Linked DNA regions of Homo sapiens. The protein of the gene in region 7 purifies or fractionates together with the protein of the main gene of each other region. This does not show direct contact. Each region holds a gene or a part of one and is shown on either strand. Other genes may lie near its edges. The genes, in order: ZNF292, NAA16, HP1BP3, PNO1, IPO9, CSRP2 and USP26.

What was found.
Region 1: the proteins of USP26 (region 7) and ZNF292 purify together in Homo sapiens (affinity purification with mass spectrometry, with the first as the bait; one large-scale study listed by BioGRID). This does not show direct contact.
Region 2: the proteins of USP26 (region 7) and NAA16 purify together in Homo sapiens (affinity purification with mass spectrometry, with the first as the bait; one large-scale study listed by BioGRID). This does not show direct contact.
Region 3: the proteins of USP26 (region 7) and HP1BP3 purify together in Homo sapiens (affinity purification with mass spectrometry, with the first as the bait; one large-scale study listed by BioGRID). This does not show direct contact.
Region 4: the proteins of USP26 (region 7) and PNO1 purify together in Homo sapiens (affinity purification with mass spectrometry, with the first as the bait; one large-scale study listed by BioGRID). This does not show direct contact.
Region 5: the proteins of USP26 (region 7) and IPO9 purify together in Homo sapiens (affinity purification with mass spectrometry, with the first as the bait; one large-scale study listed by BioGRID). This does not show direct contact.
Region 6: the proteins of USP26 (region 7) and CSRP2 purify together in Homo sapiens (affinity purification with mass spectrometry, with the first as the bait; one large-scale study listed by BioGRID). This does not show direct contact.

What each region holds. Positions count from the first base shown.
Region 1 is NC_000006.12:87,263,565-87,266,443, forward strand, and holds the end of ZNF292 (zinc finger protein 292), read left to right. Parts: 3' UTR 1-2,379; downstream 2,380-2,879. UniProt on the Homo sapiens protein: May be involved in transcriptional regulation.
Region 2 is NC_000013.11:41,366,767-41,370,266, reverse strand, and holds part of NAA16 (N-alpha-acetyltransferase 16, NatA auxiliary subunit), read right to left. Parts: intron 2,829-3,500; coding exon 2,615-2,828; intron 1,178-2,614; coding exon 984-1,177; intron 1-983. UniProt on the Homo sapiens protein: Auxillary subunit of the N-terminal acetyltransferase A (NatA) complex which displays alpha (N-terminal) acetyltransferase activity.
Region 3 is NC_000001.11:20,784,508-20,788,658, forward strand, and holds the start of HP1BP3 (heterochromatin protein 1-binding protein 3), read right to left. Parts: upstream 2,801-4,151; 5' UTR 2,688-2,800; intron 2,166-2,687; exon of another isoform or gene 1,679-2,165; intron 1-1,678. UniProt on the Homo sapiens protein: Component of heterochromatin that maintains heterochromatin integrity during G1/S progression and regulates the duration of G1 phase to critically influence cell proliferative capacity.
Region 4 is NC_000002.12:68,164,388-68,167,887, forward strand, and holds part of PNO1 (RNA-binding protein PNO1), read left to right. Parts: intron 1-550; coding exon of another isoform or gene 551-572; exon of another isoform or gene 573-1,487; intron 1,488-3,500. UniProt on the Homo sapiens protein: Part of the small subunit (SSU) processome, first precursor of the small eukaryotic ribosomal subunit.
Region 5 is NC_000001.11:201,832,157-201,835,656, forward strand, and holds part of IPO9 (importin-9), read left to right. Parts: intron 1-3,500. UniProt on the Homo sapiens protein: Nuclear transport receptor that mediates nuclear import of proteins, such as histones, proteasome and actin. Serves as receptor for nuclear localization signals (NLS) in cargo substrates.
Region 6 is NC_000012.12:76,876,220-76,880,468, reverse strand, and holds the start of CSRP2 (cysteine and glycine-rich protein 2), read left to right. Parts: upstream 1-1,449; 5' UTR 1,450-1,530; coding exon of another isoform or gene 1,531-1,531; exon of another isoform or gene 1,532-1,799; intron 1,800-1,818; exon of another isoform or gene 1,819-2,110; intron 2,111-2,186; exon of another isoform or gene 2,187-2,301; intron 2,302-4,249.
Region 7 is NC_000023.11:133,094,310-133,098,270, forward strand, and holds the start of USP26 (ubiquitin carboxyl-terminal hydrolase 26), read right to left. Parts: upstream 2,801-3,961; 5' UTR 2,721-2,800; intron 1-2,720. UniProt on the Homo sapiens protein: Deubiquitinase regulating several biological processes through the deubiquitination of components of these processes.

The DNA.
Region 1 (2,879 bases), on a different chromosome or scaffold from region 7:
ATAGTTCATTTCACCTGTTTAAGACTTACTACCAATAAGCATAAAACCTGACACGTTAAAATCCCTGCCCTTTGGTGAGCCCACTGTTATTTATTAAAATAAAAGTTATTTTATGGGTGATTAATACATGGGTTTTCTTTTTCCTAAATTAACAATAATTTAAATAACTGAGTAATTTTAATATTAAATTTTTGTTAACAACTGAATGTTTCCATACAGTTTTCTTAGAAATTGACCTAGCTCTTAAAGGTGGGCACTTGGCAAAACTGCCCTATATAGCACAGTAGCAAGTAGGTTTATTTCTGATCATTGTAACTATGAGCCACTGTTAAGTGAAAATGCCAATGTATTGGGGCTTTTCTTTTGCTCATTAGCTTAAGAAAATTTATAACTAGACATTTCTAATTGTTTTACATGTCATGGGGAAGAGTTTGCCAACATTTAATGAAATTTTTATATTCCAGGTAATGTATACTAAAGGTAATTATGAGAGTGGGCTTTTTAGCATGAAACAAAAAAAATCAAACTATGGTAAAAAGACATGAATTTATAGAATAGCATGTTGGTAAATTTTGATACGGAATGTAATGTCTAAGTATTAAAAAATCATAAAATATATTTTTTTCATGGTATACTTTTCCCCAGCCTATTGTCTTGAGATATCTTCTACAGCCTAAATTTGCTAAAGTTTCATCACTAAAAAGTAGGAGTTTTTCCTCTTCTGAACCCGCAAAGTTTGCATATTACAGGTCAGAATTGTATTATTCAAAATACATCACCTTAAGTGAAATGTAACAGTTTTTGAAATTTTCAACGGTGTTAAATTTAACATAGGTACATTATTATTTTAAAGGGCTAGACATATTTTTAAGGCAAATTTTTATCAAGTGAGCAGTCACAGTTGCTGTAGATAATATGAAAGTACAATAATACTATACCTAGGGACATCAGAAAGAATGCCCTATTTTTCTGGAAAAGGAGGTAGGTAGTTGGGAAAGTCTTTGTAGAAAATATGAGTTTTGAAAGATGAATGAATGCTCATTGGTTCAGGGGGACAAGGGAATTCCAGACTTGGGGGTAGAGCGTAATTGCGGTATTGCCAGTGGGCCACTTGGAAAGATAGGAAGTTGAAGAAGGTGAAGCTGAAGAAGCAGATGGGTGGTGGGATCAGGAGTGTTCTTGTATGCTGTATTAAGTCTTTATTTTGGTTTTTGAAAATTGTTATTGGATGCATGTATATTGAACAATTTAATCAGTATCAGTTTTAGAAAGATAATTGTCATGGTATAGTGGATAAATTGAGTAAGTTGGAGATTAATTAGGGGGACCTAAAATAGTCCAGGCAAAAAATGATGGGAGCCAGAAGAAAGGCTAACGAAGTTGGGGAAGAGACTAATGGATAAGAGAGATAATAAAAAGTAATGTCTAAGGCAGCCTGTTTCAGCATGTTTATTGTAGTGAGATACTAGGCAGGTGGAAGGTTATTGCTGTGATGAAATAAGTTTTCTAAATTGTGTGCTGTAGTTCTCTCTCTCTCTCTCTCTTTTTTTTTCTTTGTTTTTTTTGGAGACAGAGTCTCGCTCTGTTGCCCAGGCTGGAGTGCAGTGTTGCACGATCTCGGCTTACTGCAACTTCTGCCTCCCAAGTTCAAGTGATTCTCCTGCCTCAGCCTCCCCAGTAGCTGGGACTACAGATGCATGCTATCACACCCAGCTAATTTTGTAGTTTTGGCACAATCTCAGCTCAGTGCAACTTCCATCTCCCAGGTTCAAGTGATTCTCCTACCTCAGCCACCCAAGTAGGTGCACACCACCACACCTGGCTGATTTTATATTTTTAGTAGAGACGGTTTCACCATGTTGGCCAGGCTGGTCTTGAACTCCTGACCTCAGGTGATCACCCACCTCCACCTCCCAAAGTGCAGGTATTACAAGCATGAGCCACCACACCCAGCCTCTCTTAAATAATTTAATGCATGTTTGCATATTAAAGACAAAAGTTCTACTGTAAATATGTAAAAAGTTGAAAGGGAATTTTCCAGACTTAATTGACCCTGAGAACATTTTTCTTCTTTTAATGTTAATACTTAGTTATATCCCACTGAACTAGCATTCTAAAGAACACACTTTGGGAAATGCTGATCTCAAATGGCATTTATTCAACCAGGACTGATAATCAACGTGTACACCAATTCAATTGTATCAGCTGTTTGCAAATGGTGATTATTCTGATTGATCAATTTATATATCCCAATGGGTTGATTCCTTTGCTGTATTGGTTGTTAATGTTTTGAATATTACCCGGTATTCAAGTAATGCTCATTGAATTTCAAGTAATTGTGATTAAACGTTGATTAAAATCCAGTCATACTTGCCAGAAGCCCCTGCCTTTAAACATTCTTATCCTACTTCCCATTTCCCACTCTTCTCATTTCATTGAACGCATAGTAACCTTCCTTCCCCACTTCAAAGCCTATCTGGAATGCTTATTTCTCTTATTTCTATGGGTGACTCCATATCCCGTCAGTTCACAGCTTAAATGTCACCTCATCGGAAAGACACCCAGATCATAAAGTTTCACATGCCCATTCTTTACAACAGTTTTTTAAAAAATACTTACTTTAATCTATATCTTCCAACACTACCAGTCAATGAAGAAAATGATAATAATACCTGTGTTCTTCAATGACTTTGCCACAATCAAACCCCATATCACTTCCAAATCTTGAATTCAATTTATTTTTCTGGCCACAAACTTGTAGCTCACCTGCTCAAGATATCTCTGCTAAAAGAATACTTCTACCTTATTACTACCACTTGCTGACTATTCATCAGCTTACTCCTGTCCTCAGCTTGTTCAGCCTAGAAACTAGCTAGATC
Region 2 (3,500 bases), on a different chromosome or scaffold from region 7:
GCCAGCTCTTGGTGAGAAGTTAATTCTTCTGTTATCTGGACATTTTTTAACCCAAACATCTTTCTAAAATTATCAAACCATCCTTTGCTGGACCCTCAAAATTCAAACCTATGTTGTTCAAAGGCCAACTGTACTAGACTTACAGTGAATAAACCAGAAAACTAAATATTTCCTTAAATCTGATCCCAAAACAACTATTAACACTTGAGAAAATCCTGGAGGTGCTATCTCTTTGTAGCTACAACATTTCTAGTAAGACATATAAGGTAAAATGATTCCATATGTAATGGACAATTGTATTGCTGCTGTAACAAATTACCAAATATTTATTGACTTAAAACAACACACTTATTATGTTATAGTTCTTATAGGTTAAAAGCCCAACACAGTCTCACTGGGCTTACAATCAAGGTGTCAGCAGGACTGCATTTCCTTTGGAGATTCGAAGGGGGAATCCGTTCAATGCCTTTTTCAGCCTCTCTAGACTGCCCACACTCCTTAGCTTGGGGCACCCTCCTTCCATCTTCAAAGCCAGCAACAGCAGGTTGAGTCCTCCTCACATTGCATCATTCTGACCTCTGCTGCTGGCATCCTCAACTTTTAAGGCCCCTTTTGACGATATTAGGACCACATGGACAATCCAGGCTAATCTATCTTGAGGTCAATTCATTACAACCATAAATTCCATCTCCCACCTTAATTCTCCCTTGCCATGTAAGGTTACATATTCACAGGCTGGGGGGACCAGAACACAGACACCTTTGCAGGGCCATTACTCTGCCTACCACAATTGCAATTCTATGTATAACTTGCATTAGCCAAAATTTGTATACTGTCACTCAAAGATAATTGACGGCTATTATAAAAACCTTGAAATATTTCAAATGGCTTCTTACAGATTTAAATAAATCATGTTAACTGTCAGAACGGAACCAAATAGCATAAATTTTACCAAATAACAAAGATAGTAAAACCCATCTCACCCTTTCTAATTTTTCAGGTATAAGTTCTTCCTTAAGGCCACTGGCTTCTTCTTCTTCTTCATCTCTTTTTTTCTTTTGATTTTTCTGTTGACGTTCTCTTTCTGCATGCTTTCTTTCTTCTTCTAGTTTAGCCTTTTTCTGAGCTCTTCTCTGCTTGCTAAGCATTTTCTTCAATTCTTTGGCTGACAAGTTTTCTATAAATATCCAAATGAACAAAATTCTGAGCCAATGTTTGCATTTTCTTCATATTCTTCTGTAATACATACTGTTAGTATGGTTGTCCCTTGGTATCAGTGGGGGATTGGTTCATGACCCCCACCCCCACAAAGTCCACTGATACTCAAGCCTGTGATATAAAATGACACAGTATTTCCATACAACCTATGTACATCCTCCTGTATACTTTTAATTAGATCAGCTTTAAATCTTTCACCTTCCTTTTGCTTTAAGTTGCATATAATGACTTCACTTTTTCATAAATTATATTATGGTCTATAGGTATGCCTAAAATAATGTAAATGCTATGTAAATAGTTGTTACACTGCATTGTTCAGGAAATACTAATAATGACAAGAAAAAAAGTCTGGACATGTTCAGTACAGATGCAATTTAAAAAAACATATTTATGATTTGTTCCACCCATGTGGAACCCACAAAAATGGAGGGCCAGCTGTATACTTTTTTTTTCTGTTTTTTGTCTGGGCAAGGAGGGATGCAGAGGCAACCCATATAAAAGCTTTTAGAAAGTGTATCCCCAGTGACTAGAACAAAATTGGGCACACAAAGGACAGCCAGTAAATGTTGCATTAACTAAAATTGACCAATAGTAGCCCAGTTCTGCCTCCTACACAATATATGACTCCAGGCAAATCACTTTGTCCTTCTCAGTATCAAGTCTTTCAAGAATAAGTGAGATAATACATATAAACACCTGTGATCTCTAAATACTATATAAATATTAGAAATGAACAGCTACCTAGGAATATCTGAGATAGTTACCTAGGCTCATTTCATGCTAACTATTTCTCAAATATTCCTAGATATTAACATTCTAGTGAATAAAAAACTGTACAGATATTCTCACTGATATTCTTATTTTTAATAAAGTAGGAACTAGAAATTTTAAGATTATATATTTTTTCCTAAGGAGCTCAAAGCTATTTTCAGTTACAATTTTTTAAAAAAGAAAGAAAAAAACTAGTCCACAGACATTTCTATGTTTCCTAAACTCGTCTTTTTAAAATTTTTGTAGCGACAGGGGTCATGCTATGTTGCCCAGACTGGTCTTGAACTCCTGGCCTCAAATGATCTGCCTGCCTTGGCCTCCCAAAATGCTGTGATTACAGGCGTGAACCACCATACCCAGTTCTTAAATTGGTCTTTCTGAAGACAAAAATAAAAAAAATTCTAAGTTGTTCCATTAAAGTAATTTAGAACCATCAGCTACAGAATATCATCCCACTTTTTTTAACTCTCTCTGCAACATTTTTGTTTTTTGGCATATGAGTTATCTAATGTTTGTCTTCAACTCCAACAGACAATATATTAATATTTTTCTAGGTATTGTTTACGCTAATGGCATTCTGAAATTTAGTGTCCTTTTAAAATCTTTTAAGTTCCTATTCAGTTACCTGAGTTTATTTCTTGTTGTTTGCTTTCATTGGTTAAGGGATTATCATACAATTTCAAGTATATTTCAATCGCTGATCTAGCAGCCTTGAAATAAAAGGCATGTCTTCTGAGTATATCTTCTAATCTCAAAAGGTCAACATAGGCACGAAGGGTCATCTTTCTCATGCAGTATGTATGGAAGTCGAATTGGTCATCAGTTATCTCAAAAAAATGCTTAAAAACAAAAATCACAAAATTAACCTTTACATTTATGTCAATAATGTCTACCTTTAGAAAAAAAAAATTGTAAAAAGCCCAAAAAACAATTTAAACAGTCACAATTTTCACTTAGCTGCCCTCTCCAATGTTTTACACTATAAAGGATATGAATTATTTTTGGCATTCAACTTGAACTTTCTCTTCCTACAAACCATGCCCATTCCCTACAAATCATGTTTTGTGATGATACTCAACTTCTATATAAGTCAAAAGATCAGGTTATTTTTTAAACCTGAAAGTTAGTATATATTAATATTTTAGTTTTAATGAAATACTCTTCCTCCATATTCCCTAAAAACCAGCATGGCACAGTTAAACAGAGCTCTGAATGAAGACTAAATATGTGTAGGTTCACACTAAATATTTACAAATCTGACTGCTCTACTCAACTCTACCATTTTCAAGGGCAATCCTTACCCACCGCCTGCCACAGGGCCTAATACATAGCAGACATTCAGTAAGCACAGTATTTGCCCACTCAAGAGATAAGCTTCTTATTAGGGATGCGACCCTGAATAAGCCTTTTAATTTCCTAGACAATTATTTAATCTAAGTTAAGAATAAAGAAATCCATACAGCCAATTTCTTAAGGTTGTTAAAGGATCAAATAATGTATTTTAAAGTTCA
Region 3 (4,151 bases), on a different chromosome or scaffold from region 7:
TTGCTCTGTCGCCCAGGCTGGAGTGCGGTGGCGCGATCTCGGCTCACTGCAACCTCCCCTCCCGGTTCACGCCATTCTCCTGCCTCAGCCTCCTGAGTAGCTGGGACTACAGGCGTCCGCCACGACACCCAGCTAATTTTTTGTATTTTCAGTAGAGACGGGGTTTCACCGTGTTAGCCAGGATGGTCTCGATCTCCTGACCTCGTGATCCGCCCACCTCAGCCTCCCAAAGGGCTGGGATTACAGGCGTGAGCCACCGTGCCCGGCCTATTCATGTTTTTCATCTTGGTTTTTATATGTGCCAAAAATAAACAGTCTGAGTTTACTTGTGGTTTACATGGTCCTCTTATGAACATCAGCTTGCTTAAACTTAATGTTACAACAATAACAAATATTTGCTTTTTGTCAAGGGAAATGCTTAAATTAAATCGGTTGTTTATTTTGAGACAGAGTCTCAGTCTGGAGTACAGTGGCATGACCAGGGATCACTGTAGCCTCGACCTCCTGGGCTCAAGCGATCTCCTCCCACCTCAGCCACCTGAGTAGCTGGGACTTCAGGTATGCGCCACCACAGCCGGATAGTTTTTGTATTTTCTGTAGAGACAGGGTTGCCCAAGCTGGTCTCTAACTCCTGGATTCAAGCGATCCTCCTCTTTGGCCTCCCAAAGTGTTAGGATTACAGGTGTGAGCCACCATGCACGGCTTTAAATTATTTGAATGCAAGCAATAAAAAAAAGTATTGTAGAAATAAAAAGCCCCAAATTTCAGTTTTAATTTATTTCCTCTACATTAAGAGAAGGCTGTAGAAAAGTGAGGAGTTTAACAACGTATTTCAGTTTACTGATATCCTTGATAATATGCATTTTAGGGAAAGCACTATAATTTCACATTTTACCATAAAATATATGTAATACATGTCATTAGTGATGCGCTGAACACCTCACATTGTTCCCAATCTTAAGTCATTCACTACACTCAGATTTAACGAGTCATGTCACAAAAAGCATGCCTGTAATTTGACTGCTGACACCACTTGTTTTTCATTTTCAAATGTAAGTTATATAAGCAAACATATACTCAGTGTCTGTTTTGGGCATAGATACTAAGGACACTACAGTGTCTCATCTCAATAAAATCACAATCTAACTGGGTAAGGAGTTAAAACTTTCATCCGGAAATGAAGAGTTCAGTATACGTTCTCCACTAACTTCCAGCCCTACAATCTTCCAAGCAAGCTTAAAAACAAAGCCAAAACCAACCAACCCAGCAAACTTTAAAATGTTACTTCTATTTTGAAACAAATTACACTAAACTTTTGAGAAGAGCAATGAAAAATCAAAAAGCTAACAAGTTTTTTGCCTATGTCAGGTTAAACAAAATTAGAGCACCTTTCAAAAATGACACTAGTCACCTCTAATTTCACTCTAAGACAAGACAGCGTGCTCAAAAAGCCCCAGGCGATTTTTAGACGTTATTTCGAATTGGATTCTCACTTTTTAATGCAATGCAAAGTCAGGAAGCACAATAAACAACAGAGAGAACGTGCACGCGGATGCGGCAGCACAGTTCACCCGGTCCGGTCTCCGTACGGGAGACAACTCTTTCTCAAAAAGGTTAAGTGGCTGTCCCCGGTCACAGCTGTTAATGCAGTACCAACCCTCAGATCTGGGGCTCTCACCTCACCACTCCTGCCTCCATCTCTTACAAACGCTCAGATGGGCGACTGTAACTTTCTGACGACCTACCGAGGCACCGCTCTCATTCAAACCCCACCGCCTAAGGTGGCGAGTAACCAGTTCTACGTTTCCCACCGGGGGAGCGAGACTCAAGGCCGCCGTCGCGGAGCAGCAAAGCGACAGCCGACAGCCCCGCCCGCAGAAGGCCGCGGGAAGGACGGCAAGAGCAGCGGAGACAAAGCAGCGAGGCGAGGTAGCTACAGGCCACAGCGGCGAACGCGCACGGCGGGGGAGAGCGCGGGCCGCCAGCGAGGCGGGGAAAGCTCGGACCGCGGACACCGACGGATGAGGCTGGGGCTCGGCGCGGTGACAGTTCGGGGCTCACGCTCGGCAGGGACACCGCGGCGCCCGCCCCGGCGACGGAAGCAGCGGCGGAACGCGAGCCTCGGCGCTCCGCACACTCACCACTGGGAGCTCCGTAATGGCGGCGGCGGGGGCGGAGAACCCGGGGGGCGGGCCCGCCGCAGCCAGTCACCGCCGCCGGCATCTTTCGAACCGGCTCCGAAAACCGCTGAGGGAGTGGGGTGAGGGGAGGGCGCGGGCGGACGCCGGACCGCGGCGGGCCTCGGAGCATGCGCAGCCCTCAGCCAATCGGGGCGGGCAGAGGACGCCGACGCAGGCGCGCTGGGACGCAGGGTCGCACGGCCAGAGAAGAGCTCCCCCTCCTCCCCCAAATCCAAACAAAACAAGGGCGGGAGCGCGCGCGCCGGAGGGCCCCTGAGGAGGAGTCCACCAAAAGGGCAGGGGGCTAGGTCGCAGGAGAGAGGAAGGGAGCGGGGCGGAGCGGCCGGGTAAGGCAGACAAAAGGCGCCACCTCCGGGGACCCGGGCGCCCCGCCCCCTCCTCTCTGGGAGCGGCGTCGGCGCCCCGGGCGAGCGGCCTCCGCCACTCGCCTTCGGGGCCCAGCGAGCCCGCGCCCACTCCCCGGCCGCCTGTTCGGTCCTGCGTTACCTCTGCGTTCGGCCGGTCCTGGCGCCCGCGTCCCGCACGGCCTCTCGGCGCCGCTCCCGCCGCCGCTAGTCGCCTCCGCCACCGCTGTCCTCCAGTCCCAGCCGCCGAGCTCTGCCGCCCCGCCCCCCTACCCGCGGCCCCGCGCGCGCCCCCGCCGGCCCCGCCTCCCGCGCGTGGGGTGCGAGGGGGCGCGCGGGGACGGGCGGACGCCGGCGGAGCGCGGGGCGTCGGCGCGCGTTCCCGGCGCTGCGTGGTGGCGCCCATTGCCTTGGCGTGGCGGGGCGGTGTCGGTTTCCTCGGAGGGGCGCCGCTTTCCCCCGCTAACCTTCGCTTTCTGTGCTCTCCAGGGCAGTCCCTTCTCTTAACTGGGTTTCCGCTTCTGCCACTCGTCCGCCTTTAGCGGGGCTAGCCTTTCCCGCTTCTCAGTTTAGGCGCAGCTCAAGAGCAAACCTTTTTTTGAAGACCGTAGAATTGGAAAACTAGAGAGCGGAGAATTCACTGCCTCGCACTCGCTCCCATTAAGTCTCCAGACGGTACAGGGCAGAGTAGTGACTCGGGACTCAGAACTGAAAAGTTGAAACGGGCTTTCCGGGCTCCCTAATCCTCACATGCAGGGAGAGTTCCCCAGAATGAAAACCCTGAGATTAGAAGACGGGATTCCCTTTGAATTGTCATATTGCGTTGCTATCAGCGTACTTAAACAACGTACATACGAAGGAAAAGTACAGCTCTTCAAAGCTAGTTTGGAAAGATTGTTTTTAAAGTTTCAGGTGTTGGGGGACAGGGGAGGGACTGGGTAATAAATGTAAGGAAATACCAGTAGAATTGTCCCAAGCTTACAGTAGATGACCAGTACTCAAACGTATGTGCCAAGGTTTATAAAGACTTACGACACCATTTAAGCACTCACCCAGTCGTCTGGCCCTGCCATTAGCATAATTGTCTCACCAGCTTTCCCTGCCACAGCCACCCCACTCTATCAGTTCAAATTTCACAGCCAGCATAAAAAATTCTTTACGAGGTGTGCGTTATCATTCATATCCTGATGGCATTACCAGTCTTTAGTACTCTGGTGTCATATTCCAGCTGTTCAGAAGGGGTTTTGCTCTTTTATGCCATTCTTCATTCTGCTCACTCCCTTCGTTGTTAACGTTTCTGTTGTCTTCCTTTTCAAAGACTTCCATTTTTATGTATTCGTACATTTAAAACATCCTACCGTTCTTCTTTTACCCTAAAATGTCTTTAGACCCATCTCATGTAAGAAGCAGACTCAGATGAGAGCAAACTGGGAGATGTTTCCTCCTCCACAGATTTTTGCTTAAAACAACAACAACAAAACTTAGGCCGAGCATGGTGGTTTACGCCTGTAGTCCCTGCACTTTGGGAGGCCGAGGTGGGAGGATTGCATGAGGCTTGGGGCCAGGAGTTCGAGGCCAGCCAGGGCAACATAATTAGACCCCATCT
Region 4 (3,500 bases), on a different chromosome or scaffold from region 7:
GGCCGAAGTGGGAGGATCACCTGAGCCCAGAAGGTTGAAGCTGCAGGGAACCACGATCGTGCCACTGTACTCAACCCTGGGCGACAGAGTGAGACTCTAACAAAATAAAAATAAAAATACCACATATAGTCTGGGCGCAGTGGATCATGCCCATAATCCCAGCACTTTGGGAGGCCAAGGTGGGAGGAAGGAATGCTTGAGCCCTGAAGTTCAAGACCAGCCTGGGCAACATAGGGATCTCCATCTCTACAAAAAATATAAAAATTAGGTGTGATTGTGCACACCTGTAGCCCTAGCTGCTCAGGAGGCTCAGGTGGGAGGATTGCTTGAACCAAGGATGTCAAGACCACAGTGAACCATGATGGCACCACTGCACTCTAGCCTGGGTGACAGAGTGAAACCTTGTATCCAAAAAATAAAAAATTAATTAATTTAAAATCCATATACAGATGCTCCTCACCGTATGGTGGGGTTACGTCCAGATAAACCTGTTGTAAATTAATGATCTCATAAGTCAGAAGTTCATTTGATACTTCATTTGATATCATAGGATACTTCTCTTTGAAAACTGAAGAGCATTCCGAGTGTGTACCACTTTGGCGCAATTATAAAGTCAAAAAAAAATCTTCGGTTAAATCATCAAGTCATGGACTGGCTGAGTAGCCCTGAAAGCTTTCATGAATTTAGAAATCCATGGCCCGGCACGGTGGCTCACACCTGTAATCCCAGCACTTTGGGAGGCCGAGGCGGGCGGATCACGAGGTCAGGAGATCGAGACCATCCCGGCTAAAACGGTGAAACCCTGTCTCTACTAAAAATACAAAAAATTAGCCGGGCGTAGTGGCGGGCGCCTGTAGTCCCAGCTACTTGGGAGGCTGAGGCAGGAGAATGGCGTGAACCCGGGAGGCGGAGCTTGCAGTGAGCCGAGATCCCGCCACTGCACTCCAGCCTGGGCGACAGAGCGAGACTCCGTCTCAAAAAAAAAAAAAAAACAACAAAAAAAAAAAAACTAGCTGGGTGTGGTGGCACATGCCTGTTATCCCAGTTACTTGGGAGACTGAGGCAGGAGAATTGCTTGAACCTGGGAGGCGGAGACTGCAGTGAGTCAAGATTGCACCACTGCATTCCAGCCTGGGCGACAGAGTGAGACTCCATCTCAAAAAAAAAAAAAAAAAAAACGGCTGGGCATGGTGCCTCACACCTGTAATTTCAGCACTTTGGGAGGCTAAGGCGGGTGGATCACCTGAGGTTAGGAATTCGAAACCAGCCTGGGCGACAGTGAGACTCTGTCTCAAAAAAAAAAAGAATTTAGAAATCTAAAACTAACTGATTTGCCAATGAAATTATATAGTCTGTCATTAAGTTTATTACTGGTAAATTTATAAGTATATTTGTAAGTGTTAACCTAAAATTTACTAGTTAAACCAACGTTTTAGAAGTTTATTGTGGCATAATTTACATACAATAAAATTCTATTGTTTTAAGTATCCCGTTCAATGAGTTTTTGGCAAATGTATATTGTAGTCCCATGACACTCATACAGTTCTCTTACCCTGAAAGTTCCCTCGTGCATCTTTATGGTCAGTTGCCTGCCCCCACCCTTTTCTGGGACAACCATTGCTCTTGTTTCTGTCACTCTTATTTTGCATTTTCTAGAAATTCATATAAATGGAAATACACAGTATGTAGGCTTTGGTGTATGACTTCTCTTAATTAGCATGTTATTTTGGATTTCTCCATTTTGTTGGGTGTATCAGTAGTTCCTTTTTATTGGCAAGTACTATTTCATTGCACAGGTATACTGTTGACCCTTGAATATTGCAGGGATTAGGGATGCTGAACCCCTAACATGGTTGAAAATCCATGTATGTATGACTTGACTCTCCCAAAACTTAACTACTCCTGCTTTTGGCTGGAAGCTATACCAATAACAAACAGTTGATAAACACATATTTTGTATGTTATATGTATTATATACTGTACTCTTTCATAAAGTAAGCTAGAGAAAAAATGTTATTAAGAAAATTATAAGGAAGAGAAAATCTATCTACTCTTCATTAAGTGGAAGTGGGTTATCATAAAGGTCTTCATGGTGAATAAGCTAAGGAAGACGAGGAAGAGGGGTTAATCTTGCTGTCTCATGGGTGGCAGAGGAGGAAGATGTGGAAGGCGAGGCAGGAGAGGCAAGCATACTCTGGAACTTTACAGAAATACATTGTAATTTCTGACTTTTTTGCCCTTTCACTTCTCTAAAAATGTTTCTGTAGGGTACCAATCCTCTTCCACAGTTTTTAGTTTCAGTGCCCACGTCATAAAAGGGTCTATGTCATAAAAGACGTCAAAAGCATCTTGAATAATCAGAAACCTTCTGCCAAATTGTCTAATGTCACCTTGTTTTCTGACACTGCTGCTTCTACATCATCTTCCTCATCACCCGGCACTGCTTCAGAAGCACTCACCTCCATCAAGTCGTCTTCTGTTAATTCCTCTGGCATAGTGTCTGTTAGCTCTTGATTTCTCCGTGATCCATATCTTGAAACCCTTCACCCCTCACTTTTGGCCATATCCACAGTCTCTTTCATGATTTCTTGTTTGGCTCTGTCGTAAATCCTGTACTGTCATGCAAAACCTCTGGACATGGTTTTCTCCAGCAGGAATTTATAGCTGCAGGCATGAGGCTTTCACAGCTTTTTCCATAATAATGACAGTGTCTTCAATGGCATGGTCCTTCCAGACTTTTATGATGTTCTTTCCATCGAGTTCTCTTCCATAGCATTGACACTATTTTCCATAGAGTAGTGTGTGTAATGAACCTTAAAGGTCTTTATGACTACCTGTTCTGGAGGCTGAATTAGAGAGTGGGTGCAAGGAGACCACTTTGTTGCCTTTCGGTATTGAACTCATGGGGTTCTTGGGTGGCTGGGACATTGCTCAACATCAAAAGAGCTTTAAAAGGCATTCCTTACTGGCAAGATACTTCCTGACTTCAGGGAAAAAGCATCAATGGAATCAATCCAGAAAAAGAGCTCTCCTTGTGCAAGCCTTCTTGTACATCCAGAAGACAGGCCACTGGTGTTTACCTTTTCCCTTCAAGGATCGGGGTTAGCAGCTTTATAGATAACGGCAGTCCTGATCATAAACCTGACTGCATTTGCACAAAACAGTAAAGATAGCCTATCCTTTCCTGCATTAAATCCTGGTGTTTGCTTCTCTTCTTTACTAATAATTGCCCTTTGTGACATTTTTTTCCAGAACAGGACGTTTTTCATCTGCACAAAAAACCTGTTCAGGCAGATATTATTTCTCCTCAGTGATTTTCTTAATGGCATCTGGGAACTTGTCTGCTGCCCTTTGGTGAGCAGAAGCTGCTTCTCCTGTTACCCTGACATTTTTAAAGCCACCTCTTTCTAACATTATCGAAGCATCCTTTGCTGGCGTTAAGTTCTCCAGCTTTAGATCCTTCATTTTCCTTTTGCTGTAAGTTGTCATATAATGACTTA
Region 5 (3,500 bases), on a different chromosome or scaffold from region 7:
TCCCAAAGTGCTGGGATTACAGCCGTGAGCCACTGCACCCAGCCCACATTTTAGTTTTACCCTGGTAGAAGGAACCTTGTTTTCTGATTCTAGGAAACACTTTTTTTTTTTTTGAGACCGAGTCTCACTCTGTGGTCCAGGGCCCAGGCTGGAGTGCAGTGGCATGATCTCAGCTCACTGCAACCTCCACCTCCCAGGTTCAAGCAATTCTCGTGCCTCAGCCTCCCAAGTAGTTGGGATTACAGGCATGCACCACCATGCCTGGCTAATTTTTGTATTTTTAGCAGAGGCGGAGTTTAGCCATGTTGCCCAGGCTGATCTTGAACTCCTGAGCTCAAGCAGTCTGCCCACCTCAGCCTCCCAAAATGCTGAGATTACAGGCATGAGCCAACCGGCCAGGCCGGAAACACTCTTAAAACTTGAAGTTAATGAGAAATCTGGGATTTGGTGTCTATTATTATTTGTGTTCTGGTAATCTTTTGATCATTTTTTGGTTCCATGGGGCCCAGGATCAGGTGACAACCAGATCTAGTCCTCCCTCTGTCCTCTCAAATAACCACACTGTCTTTGTGAGCTGTTTATTAGTCCATCACATAGGAGACTGATCCCACATGGTCTTTAAGATTAACTGGTCCGTTCCCTTTGCCAAAAACATTTGTTACCTTCCTTGGCTACCAGGTGATGATCCCTTGTCTTGAAGATTAAATGGAAGAATATCTAATTTATGGGGAAAGGACACAGGTCAATTGTCAACTCCCTGTTAAAAGGACAGGCAAGAGAAGTTGACATGCTGTGACCAAATTGTACTATAGATGAGATTTTAAGAAGCAGTTATCTTAGAAAATAAAGATTGCTGGAGCCTAGAGTAGTCCTGATCATTTAGTGTACCAGCTGATATTTTCTGATAAATAAATAAATTGCCTATAATTAATTATCACATTTTCCAGAATGGGCACCTGTTCTCTTAAGCCAAGGAAGTGTGTGTATGTGAGAGATCCATTTGATTCATGTAGCGTGTCAATCTGAAAAGGATAAGATAGGTTACTTCATCAGCCTGGTGTCCTGGAATGATTTTTTTTTTTTTTTTAATTTTATTTTTTGAGACAGAGTCTCGCTCTGTCACCCAGGCTGGAGTGCATTGGCATGATCTCGGCTCACTGCAACATCCGCCTCCTAGATTCAAGTGATTCTCATGCCTAGGCCTCCCAAGTAGCTGGGATTACAGGCGCGTACCAACACGCCAGGCTAATTTTTGTATTTTTAGTAGAGATGGAGTTTCACCATGTTAGCCAGGCTGGTCTCGAACTCCTGACCTCAGGTGATCCACCCACCTTGCCCTCCCAAAGTGCTAGGATTACAGGCGTGAGCCACTGCGCCTGGCTGGAATGATTTTCTTGAGCCCCTGTGCTTGCTATTTTTGCTAGTCACTTGGAATCTGGAAGAAACCCAGCAAACCTCTCTGAATATTTAAAGTCTATTTAACAGGGCTAATTAGATAAGGAGATGATGCCAGTAACCACCTTCATCAGATAGCACTCCCATCCTGAATTGAGAAGAACATTGCTTGAAAGTTTGGAAGTTATTATGGTGTACAGTATTCTGCAGATAATTGTTAACCTTTCATTTTTCTTTCTTTCTTTTTTTTAAGATACAGAGTTTTGCTCTGTCACCCAGGCTAGAGTGCAGTGGTGTGATCATAGCTTACTGCAGCTTCTAACTCCTGGGCTTACGCAGTCCTCCCAACCTCAGCCTCCCAAGTGGCTGTGACTACAAGCACATGCCCATACTTGGCTGATTTTTTTAGTTTTTTTCTGGAGATGGGGTCTTGCTGTGTTGACCAGGCTGGCCTTGAACTCCTGCCCTCAAGTGATCCTCCTAAAGTGCTGAGATTATAGGCATGAGCAACCACACCTGGCCCCTTTCATTTTTCTTAGGAGGATTGAGATTTTGAGTTTGATCAGGTTTGTAGGAAATTTACTTCTACCTAAATAGGGTAAAAAAAATTTTTTTTAAGTTTTTTTATTCGTTAGAGTAAAAAAACTTTTCTTTTCTTTTTTTTTTTTGTTGCACTGCTAAGAGTCTAAAGCATGCTTTCTAATTCTGTTTTGTTTAATAGGCAGGTTCATATTAAGCACTTTACAAACATAGTAGTTAAAAAGACTGGAGAGGTTATGAACCACCGAAGATCTCTTACGTCAAAGTCTCATATTCTGTACTCAGCTTCATCAACTCTTTTTCTTTTGTTTTTGTCTGACTTACGGTGAGATCATGAGAATTACCATCTTTTGAGAATGTCAGCCTTTTATTTTTGGTGTATTCGTGCTTTATTTTTTTATATCTTAAAATGAAGTTCTTTCCCTCTTTTTCTACTTCTTTCTCTACTTTTCCTCTAAGAATGGCATTATCCAAGTGGTGGAATGGGTTGCTTTCATTCAGAAGCTTTAATTCTTCGTGCCAGCATGCACAGACTTTCTTACATAACTAGATTTAGACCCTAGGACATTTTCTTCTTTGCTTATTTCTTTTTTGCCTATTACAAATGATGACATTTCCCCTATCATTTGGCCTTGTCTAGTTCCCAGTAGATAAGTCACAGAGAATACATTTTTCTTCCCTTCTACCACCATTATGTTGAACAGGGGAGGGGGGAAATTATCTCTCCCTCACCTTTCCTGGCATTCAGATGCTGCCGAGATACCTGTATTGATTTCCCCATCTTAGATGCCTAGAGAGATGATCCTGCTGGCTGGAAGTTTGCTTTCTGGTTCTCATGGGCACTTTTCTGGCTCTTTTGCAGTATAGCGTAAGCACTGTCCACCTGCGAAGGGCGCCCCTCAAGGATCCAGACGCACTCCTGGGCATGTGGCGGGCACTGAGCCGAGCGGAAGGCGGCCACGCTCGGAAAAAGGCCAGTGGTGGAGTTTTCTTTTTCCTTTCAGCTGTGGTTTTGTGGTGCTTACCAACTCCCATGAGAAATAGGGGGCTTGTCCAGGGGGTCTACTCAAAACCGCATCCTTCTCCAACAATCCCTGTTCACAATTCTTATTAGTTGACTGTCAAAGTACTGCCAAGTCTTGTCTCTCTAGGAGACCCTTCAGACCAATAGCATGTATTTCTTAAGTGATCCTTTATCCTCCATGCTCTCCTTTGGGTTTTCCCTTCTAAACCAAGTTTTAGATAGATAATGTTTTTGCCATATGGGGTGATAAGAGAGAAAGGGGAGCAAGGATAACGAGAGGGAAGCAAAAGACTAAAAGAGAATGAGACTAGAGAATGAAAGAGGGCAGAGGATTTCTTAGGAAGTCAAAGGATGCCATTTTGGATAGGAATAAAGGTATAATTAAGGAGAATCTAGAGTCAGGGTGAAAACCCAGATTAACAGAATGAACTGTCCTTATTTCACCATGGGAAAGGGAACTAGAGAAATTAAATTTCCTAACAAAAATAGCTTTAGAAAACAACTTCATATAGCCCTCTTGGCAGTGTTGCCCTTTGGCTCA
Region 6 (4,249 bases), on a different chromosome or scaffold from region 7:
TTGGCCCGTGAGTCAAGTCACTTACACTAGCTGATATCACTGAAATAAGGATTGCCCATATTTAGAAAAGCTCACAGCAGGCAAGAATGCTTTCCAGACTCCTGCCACAGTATCAGGAGATGTCAATCACCACTATGTGTTTTTGGACAGTACTTGGTGGACAGAGAACAAGGCAGCTATAATGAGTTTATCCTGGATTGGCCCCAGCATATAAAATAAAACAATAATAATATTATAAGTCGGTTCTGTACGTTGTCATGCGGATATGTGCTCCCTGCCCTCTCCCCAAGAGGGCATTTGGCAATGTCCAGAGACTTTTTGATTGTCACAACGTCGGGGGCAGGTTGCAACTGGCATCTAGTGGGTGGAGGCCTCCTACAATGCACAGGACAGCCCCCTACAATAAAGAATTATCCAGCCCAAGATGTCAATGGTGTGGAGGATGAGAAACTCTGGACCAGAGGAGGCAATAGCATTTATGGCATGAGGGGGTTTTGGTCACTGACTTTTTTGAACTCCCCACTCCGCAAGTATCAGTTCTCCGGGATCATTGCTTCTGGCAGGAGAGGTCATGAGGAGGCCTAGAATATGAACCAGATAGAGATTGCATTGTTTATTTTCCTTTTCATCTAAAACAATAAATCATCCTGTAGCTTAGGCATTAGGTCCCTTCGGATGTCACGGTATCCTTGTGCTTTTCTGACATCAACACATATAAATACAGGGCCTGTGGCGCCCGGGGTTTCTGCCTGGGTTTAGGTTTCTTCCCCCTCAGCATCGCGTGCTGTGCCCTGGTGGAGGGGAAGAGCGAAACACTTTGGGAATGGGGCGTTTTCGTAACGTCATTTATTTAGTCTAGATGAATTTTGCTCTTTAAGAATAAGAAGTTGTGGATTCCCAGAAGCTGGAAATCGGACGAGAGAATATGCGTTAACTAGGGAAGTTAATCACGTTGAGTTTACTGACAAGGACAAGGCAAGGGGGAGGTGGCGGAAAGCCCCGTTTGGCTGACTTTCTACTGCTGGAGCCTCCCGGCCCATGACTGTCTCCGCGAAGAGGGGGATCGGCGCTCGCGGTGGACAGGTCCGACGCAGGGCGGCGGGGGCCACTTTCCAGCGGGACCGTCCCGCCGCCGGGCCTCCCTGGAGGGGAAGGAAGTCCCTCTCCAAGTCCCAGTGGCTTTTGGAACTGCCGGGTCCCTTTGGGAGGGAGCGGTCCCGGGACGTGGGAAGATGCCGGGCGGGCGGGAAGCTGCAGGAAGAGGCGGGCCTCCTGCCTTTTGTCTCCTGGTGGCTAGCCCGGAGCGGGCAGAGGGCAGCCCGCCCGCTACACGCCCCAGCCCGGCAAGCGGCTCCGGGAATCCGGCGGGCGGGGCTGGGAGGAGGGCGGGGCGGACACAGGCCGCGCCCACCGAGCGCTCTTTAAAAGGCACCGGCGCGCGCTTCGCCTGGGATCTCGGACTCCCTGGACCCTCCCTCCAGCCCAGCCTCGCTAGCTCCGCCTGCGGTACGTGCTCCCGCCTCCGACTCAAGTGAGTAGGGGCGGTGGGGCGGTTCCGCGGCGCCGCCAACCCCGGGGCGGGAGTTGCAGGGGGTTTCCACCGCCTCCCGGGGTCGTGCTGTCGCCCGGCCGGCGCGCCCCGGTCTCCTCCGACATCCCCATCCCGGTCCGCATTTGTGCCCCTGCCAGCCTTCTCATCCCTGCGCCCCAGATTTTCTCTCTCTTATCCCCCAAACACACCTGCCCTTGTCCCCGAGGCCGTCCAGGCCATGCCCTGGGATCCCAGGCCCGCGGGGCAGGTAAATAATCTTATATGACCTTTAATTTCTCCATACTGGTTTCTCTGGGAGAGAGGCGGGTTGTGAGTTTCGCGTTTCTGCTAATCCGCCTCTTAGCAGCCGTCGGTCCCCTCGTCCAGCGGCAGGCTCTCTCTGGGGTGGGGGTCGGAGTCTCAGGGCCCCCTCTGCCCGGAGTGTGGTGAGCACCGAGGGCGACCTTACTGGGTTCTGTCCCCTAGGGGTGGAATGGGGCTTCTACATCCCCCCGAGCCCAGGGTACTGCTCCTGCCGCCGTACCGGGCTCCTGGCATCCCCATTGTTTGGTGGTGTCTGCCCACCCAGCACCGAACCCCTCTATGTTGAAGGAACAGCAGGGAATGTCAATCACTTACTCCTAGCTTTTTCCAGAACTTTCTACGATTCAGGTACAAAGAAGAATGCAAGAATGCTTGGTTGTGAAATTATGCGACAGGTCCTGCGAATCACATTCTGGGTTCTCCAGAGCCAGATTCAGGAGCTCCACGTAGGCACCCCCTGGGGGCGGGGGCGGGCTTTCTAAACCGGCGGATCCCTTTCCCCCTTCTAAGCCAGGACATTTGTTAAACGATTTTTACTTAAATGGCTACCCAAAATGTTTAACCTGTTTTATTTGCAGTCTGCAAACCAAGCACATTTTCCCTTTATAAATGCTTTTCGGTACAGAATTTTTTTTGGGGGGTGGGGGGGTGGGGCGGGGGCAGTTAGTAATTTTTTAACCCGGGCAGCGAAAATCGTCGTATTTAGTTCTTGACTTTTCCAATTAACCTGTTTTAAAACTCTCCTCATAAAATGCCAAGAATTCAAATAGGACAGCCACAAAGTTGGCTGTACTTTGACTCACGTTTTTCAAGAAAGAATTGGGTGATAGATTTTGAAAGGGAGAATCTAACATAGTTTCAGAACTGCATGCCAAGCTACAAAGAATGTTGTGAAGTACTAAGTGGTCTCCCCCAGTACTCCTGGGGTCATCGCTCTCGTCCATTGTCACTGATACTTTGTCAGTATTTCTCTGGGTCCTTTCTCCTCTGCATTGTAGTTTTCTTTGCTCTTTTGGTTCTGTGTTACCTTTGAGACCAGACCTGCATCACATGAGTCTTTGAAACTCACAGTGCTTGCTTGGGTACCTTGGACAATTGACTGAAAGAAGGAGCGAATAAGGTTGTGATTATAGGGAACAAAAATATAATTTGACTCACACAATAGGTATTTGTTTGCAGATTTGATCTAAAGTTCGTATCATAAATTTTTAATGCATTTCTCCGAATGTATTTAACAAATATTGATTGATACTGGTATAGGCTAAGTACTGTGCTGAAAGCAGTACTTGCTGGAGGCCTGTCCTGATGAAATTGCAAAATCACTTGGATTTGGGGGAGATTGAATTTTATCCTAAAACAGCAAGAATGTTGGTGTAGAGTAGAGGACAGCAATAAATGAGGAGTTTTAGAAGCCTGAGTCCAGAGGCAACTCTGACACTAAATTGCTATAGTGATCTGGGTCTCTAGGTTTTCTTCTTTGTCAAAAGTGAGGTGAATCAAATGAACCCCAAAAGGGAGCCCCCTATGGGAGAGGAGGCATGGCTGAAAGGGGGAGGAACGAAGCCAGGCAGGACCAAATTCACACCTCAACTCCAGTACCCATTGGTTTGATGCCCTTGGGCAAATTAACTTTACTCTTTGGCCTCAATACTTCATCATGTAAAATGGGTGTAGTGGCACATGCCTTGCAGGGTTGTCATAAGGCCTGTTGATACTTGTACAAAGCCCAGCCCAGCCTGGGAGTAGTTCCTTGTAATTAGACAAAGTTGTGCACTTGGTTGAATATATGTGGGAAAAGGCTATCAGTGAAAGTCTGTTTCAGGAGAGAGCTGGCTCACACCTGAAGAGCGTTTCCTAGACCTTGCCTGGAGGCCAGCTTTCTTCTCTGTGCAGATGTTCACAGGTTTCCTCAAGGCACCTTACCCTGACTGCCAGCATGCCATCCCTTGGGTTCTGTTGGGTGGGGATCCCCAGACACCTCTGGATCTTTGATTACCTAGGTGGGGTTTCTGACTTTTTATATCATGGCACTCCTGTGAGGCCTCCAGACCCCTTCTCAAAATGACGTAACATAAAGTATGTGGTACCAAGTTCCCCAACCCCCAGAATTAAAAGGAATTGTGGCCTTTGGGTTAAGAATCCTGAATTAAGGGAATATTTCTCAGTCTGGATAGTGGAGAAGCTGGGCACAATTTCTTTTTTTTATATTTTTTCCTTTTCAAATTCCTTTTTACCACAGGCACAATTTCTGATTGTTAAAAATTTTATTGTTGTAAGTCACAGAGGAAGAACTAATAGAAGTACATGGTGAATGATCTGGAAAGGATATCAGGTTCCTTGTTTTTTTGTTTACAATCTTATTGTGCCAACAATACTATTGTCTTCGACTAATAA
Region 7 (3,961 bases):
GCGAGCAGAAGATCCAGAAGGATCTAGAAGGATCTACTTCCATTTTCTCTCCTAACCTGGCCCTAGACAACTTCTGTCCTCCTTATTCTTAAATAGAAACCTTTTTTTTTTTTTTCTGGGAAGGAACACCTTGGAAAGAGGACCTATGCCAAAATGTATAAATACCATTATATTAAACACACAACTATACTGTACAATAAAATTCAGATGAGGCAACATGACTTCCAACGGCTGTTCACTGCCAGAAAGTAAACATTTGACGTTACAGTTAATTTCCTCATTTACACACTGAAATACCTCCGTCTTTTAAAGGAAACGTATGCAAAAAACTCGAGCAGAATTGAATACATTGAACCTCAACACACAATTGTTTCAGGATATGATATCCCAAAAAACTTTCTGCAGTGGCTGGTGATTGGCACTTGTGACAATTTAGTGTCCTAAAACAAGCTCTCAGGCAAATTAGCAATGTGTGCATTTTTACATTAAAAATACCACAAACGGGCTGGGCACAGTGGCTCACGCCTGTAATCCCAGCACTTTGGAAAGCCGAGGAGGGTGGATCACCTGAGGTAAGGAGTTCAAGACCAGTCTGGCCAACTTGGTGAAACCCCGTCTCTACTAAAAATAGAAAAATTAGCTGGGCATAGGGGCGGGCACCTGTAATCCCAGCTACTTGGGAGGCTGAGGCAACAGAATCACTTGAACCTGGGAGGCAGACGTTGCAGTGAGCTGGGATCGTGCCACTGCGCTCCAGCCTGGGCGACAGAACAAGACTCTTGTCAAAAAAAAAAAAAAAAAAGAAAGAAAGAAAGAAAAGAAAAGAAAAGAAAGAAAATGCCACAAAACATTCTTTCAATTAGAAAATTCTTTTCGTTATTTGTAAATTGAAGATAATACAAAACTTTCTTCACACAAAATTTATGAAAAGGACTAGGACCCACATTTAATGGAATAAAATGCTACCTAACACAGAATTCCTCTGTAAAATAAAATTCCAAATTCCATTAAATGGCAGCCGATGATAAGACACTTAAGTGCAGTCACTGGTGCAAAACATTAAGGACACAGCCAGATGATTAAATTGTGCATTTGTAAATCAAGATTACTCCAAAACTTTTATTTTATAAGGAAATTAATGAAGAGGAAACAAGACCAGAATTTGGACAAATAAAATTATACCAAATAGGCTGTTCTGTTATAAAATGCACTCAATCGACAGTTAATTTCCTCTACTGCAAACTGAAACTTGTACAAAACCTTTCATAAGAAACCTATGAAGTTTCCAATGCCAACAATATTTTTTTAAGAGACAGGGTCTCGCTCTGTCGCCTAGGCTGCAGTACAGTGGCACAGACGCAGCTCACTTCAGCCTCGTCCTCCTGGGCTAAAGAGGTCCTCATACGTGGCCAAGACTACTCGGGGAGACTACATCTGGCTATTTATTTATTTTGAGATGTAGTCTCACTGTGTCGCCCAGGCTAGAGTGCAGTGGCACAATTTCGGCTCACTGCAACCTTCGCCTCCTGGTTTCAAGTGATTCTCTTGCCTCAGCCTCCCCAGTAGATGGGATTACAGGCACATATCACCACGCCTGGCTGATTTTCATATTTTTAGTAGAGACGGGGTTTCACCGTGTTGACCAGGCTAGTCTCGAACTCCTGACCTCAGGAGATCCACTCACTTCAGCCTCCCAAAGTGCTGGGATTACAGGCATGAGCCACGGCGCCCGGCCTAATTTTTTTTTTTTTTTTTTTTTTTTTTTTTTTGTAGAAATGAGGTCTCCCTCTGCTGTTCAGGCTGGTCTCTAACTCCTGGACTCAAGCCTCCTTCCCACCTCCCAAAGCACTGGGATTACAAACACTAGCCACCACAGCTAGAGAGGCAGAGCATCCATATTGTTTGTAAAACATCAACTGCAATTAAGACCAAACTTTTAAAGGCAAATGAATGAAAAATATGAGAAGCACTCTTCGTGGAATACAATTAAATTCACAACTATACTGTATAAAAATGCAAAATAGCGAATGACCAACAGGAGGCTATCTGAAGTTGTCAATGAACAATTCCTGCACTGACCAGACAACATTTTCAAGTTTTAAACACCAGAAAACTTTTCTTTTATTTGAAAGTGAGTGGATGAAAGAACCGACTCCAAAAGATAACCACAAATATTACATTTTTAAAAGAAAGAAATACAAACAACATCGCAGCAGCTAATGGCCATTAACTGTCCTAATACCGTGCACAATCCCTCCCAATGGGAAGCTGATTCTTTCCAGGTCCAAAGTAACAGAAAGAGAGGCCAGGCGTGGTGACTCACGCCTGTAATCCCAGCAGTGTGGGACACTGAGGCGGGTGGACCACCTGAGGTCAGGTGTTGGAGCTCAGCCTGAGAAATATGGTGAATCTCTGTCTCTACTAAAAATACAAAAACTAGCCAGGCGTCGTGGCAGGCGCCTGTAATCCCAGTTACTCAGGAGGATGAGGCAGGAGAATCGCTTAAACCCAGGAGGCGGAGGTTGCAATGGGCCGAGATCATGCCACTGCACTACAGCCTGGATGACAGAATGAGACTCCGTCTCAAAAAAAACAAAAACAGAAAAACGAAAAGAAAAGAAAAAGTATACTACTACATTTCATATAGCCACATATAGAAAGCACACTACAAATATCTAACTCTCAATAACTATTACAAATGAAAAGCAAATTGATCTTACAATAGTTTGTGGAAGAAGTCGACACCCCTGACACACCAACGCTCCACCACGTGCCCACTTAACGATCGAAAACAAAATGGGCCCCGCCACAGGGGCAGGCTTCTTTTATTGCCAGTGTATGGCTCCACCCTCAAAGATCCTGATTGGTTGTGACTGAAACAATTGACCAGGATACTGTCTACTCCCACCTTCTCTATAACAGGAAAGTCCGTCCACACCCCGGGCCTTTGCTCCTTATTGGTGGGAAGGATTATTGCTTGGAGGTGTTGCGCGTGCAGTGGCAGGAACTGTGGGGAATGGAAGGAAAAAACTATCACAAAGTAACTCCCACGAGACTTTCTGCGTGGTTCCCGCAATGAATTCAAATAACGCGCCAACCGCTTTTACATTTTTTGCATATTATTGCCTTGTACGGGAAAGATCTTCCCAGCCATTTCTACCATTGGGATGAGACTCAATTCGTAGCAGGGAATTGAAACCCACCCCTCAGCATTTACGTTTGGGAAAAAGGAACGGGCGTGATGCCAGGACGGGGATCTACAGTGAAAAATGAGCCTAAATAGCTGTACACCTAACAATTGTGCATAGGAAGTAAGGGCATTAAATTGGGGATGGTGCCGCCATTGCAGGTGAGTTAAACAGAATGGGCATTAAACTAAGTGAGCATAAGCAGTTAGGAGAGAGTTTATACGACTGGGAGAATGGATGTGGGGTGATAAGAGGACTGAGGAAGGGGATCACGAGTAGAACTAGGAAATGGCCATACTAGCGTTTGAATCCATGACCCTCTAGCACCAATGTCTGTGTCGTAGACCACTATTTAAGAGTAATCAGCCTCCTACTAGAATTTCCTTTCCCCCCATCTCTGTCCACCAATTAGGTCCCAGCTCAAACACAGCCGCCTCCATGATGCATTCACTGATCCTTTCCCTCTCTTACCAGGCCCTCTCTTGCTGCTATCAGGTGGGGAATATGGGAAAACATTAGAATTGGGGTGCAAGGGAGTGCTGTCAGCACTGGCATCAGTTAGCACCGGGCTGGATGTGGCGAGAAGGACCCAGATTTGTACTGGGATGTTTGCATTTGTTAGGTTGCAGAAATTCTGCAAAATCCAGTGCAAAAAAATAACCTAGCCCATACCTGTCTCCTGACTGGTCAGAGAATTATAAATTTAGACTACAGTTGAAAGTAAACTTGGTAGGGCTGGGCGTGGTGACTCACGCCTGTAATCCCAGCACCTT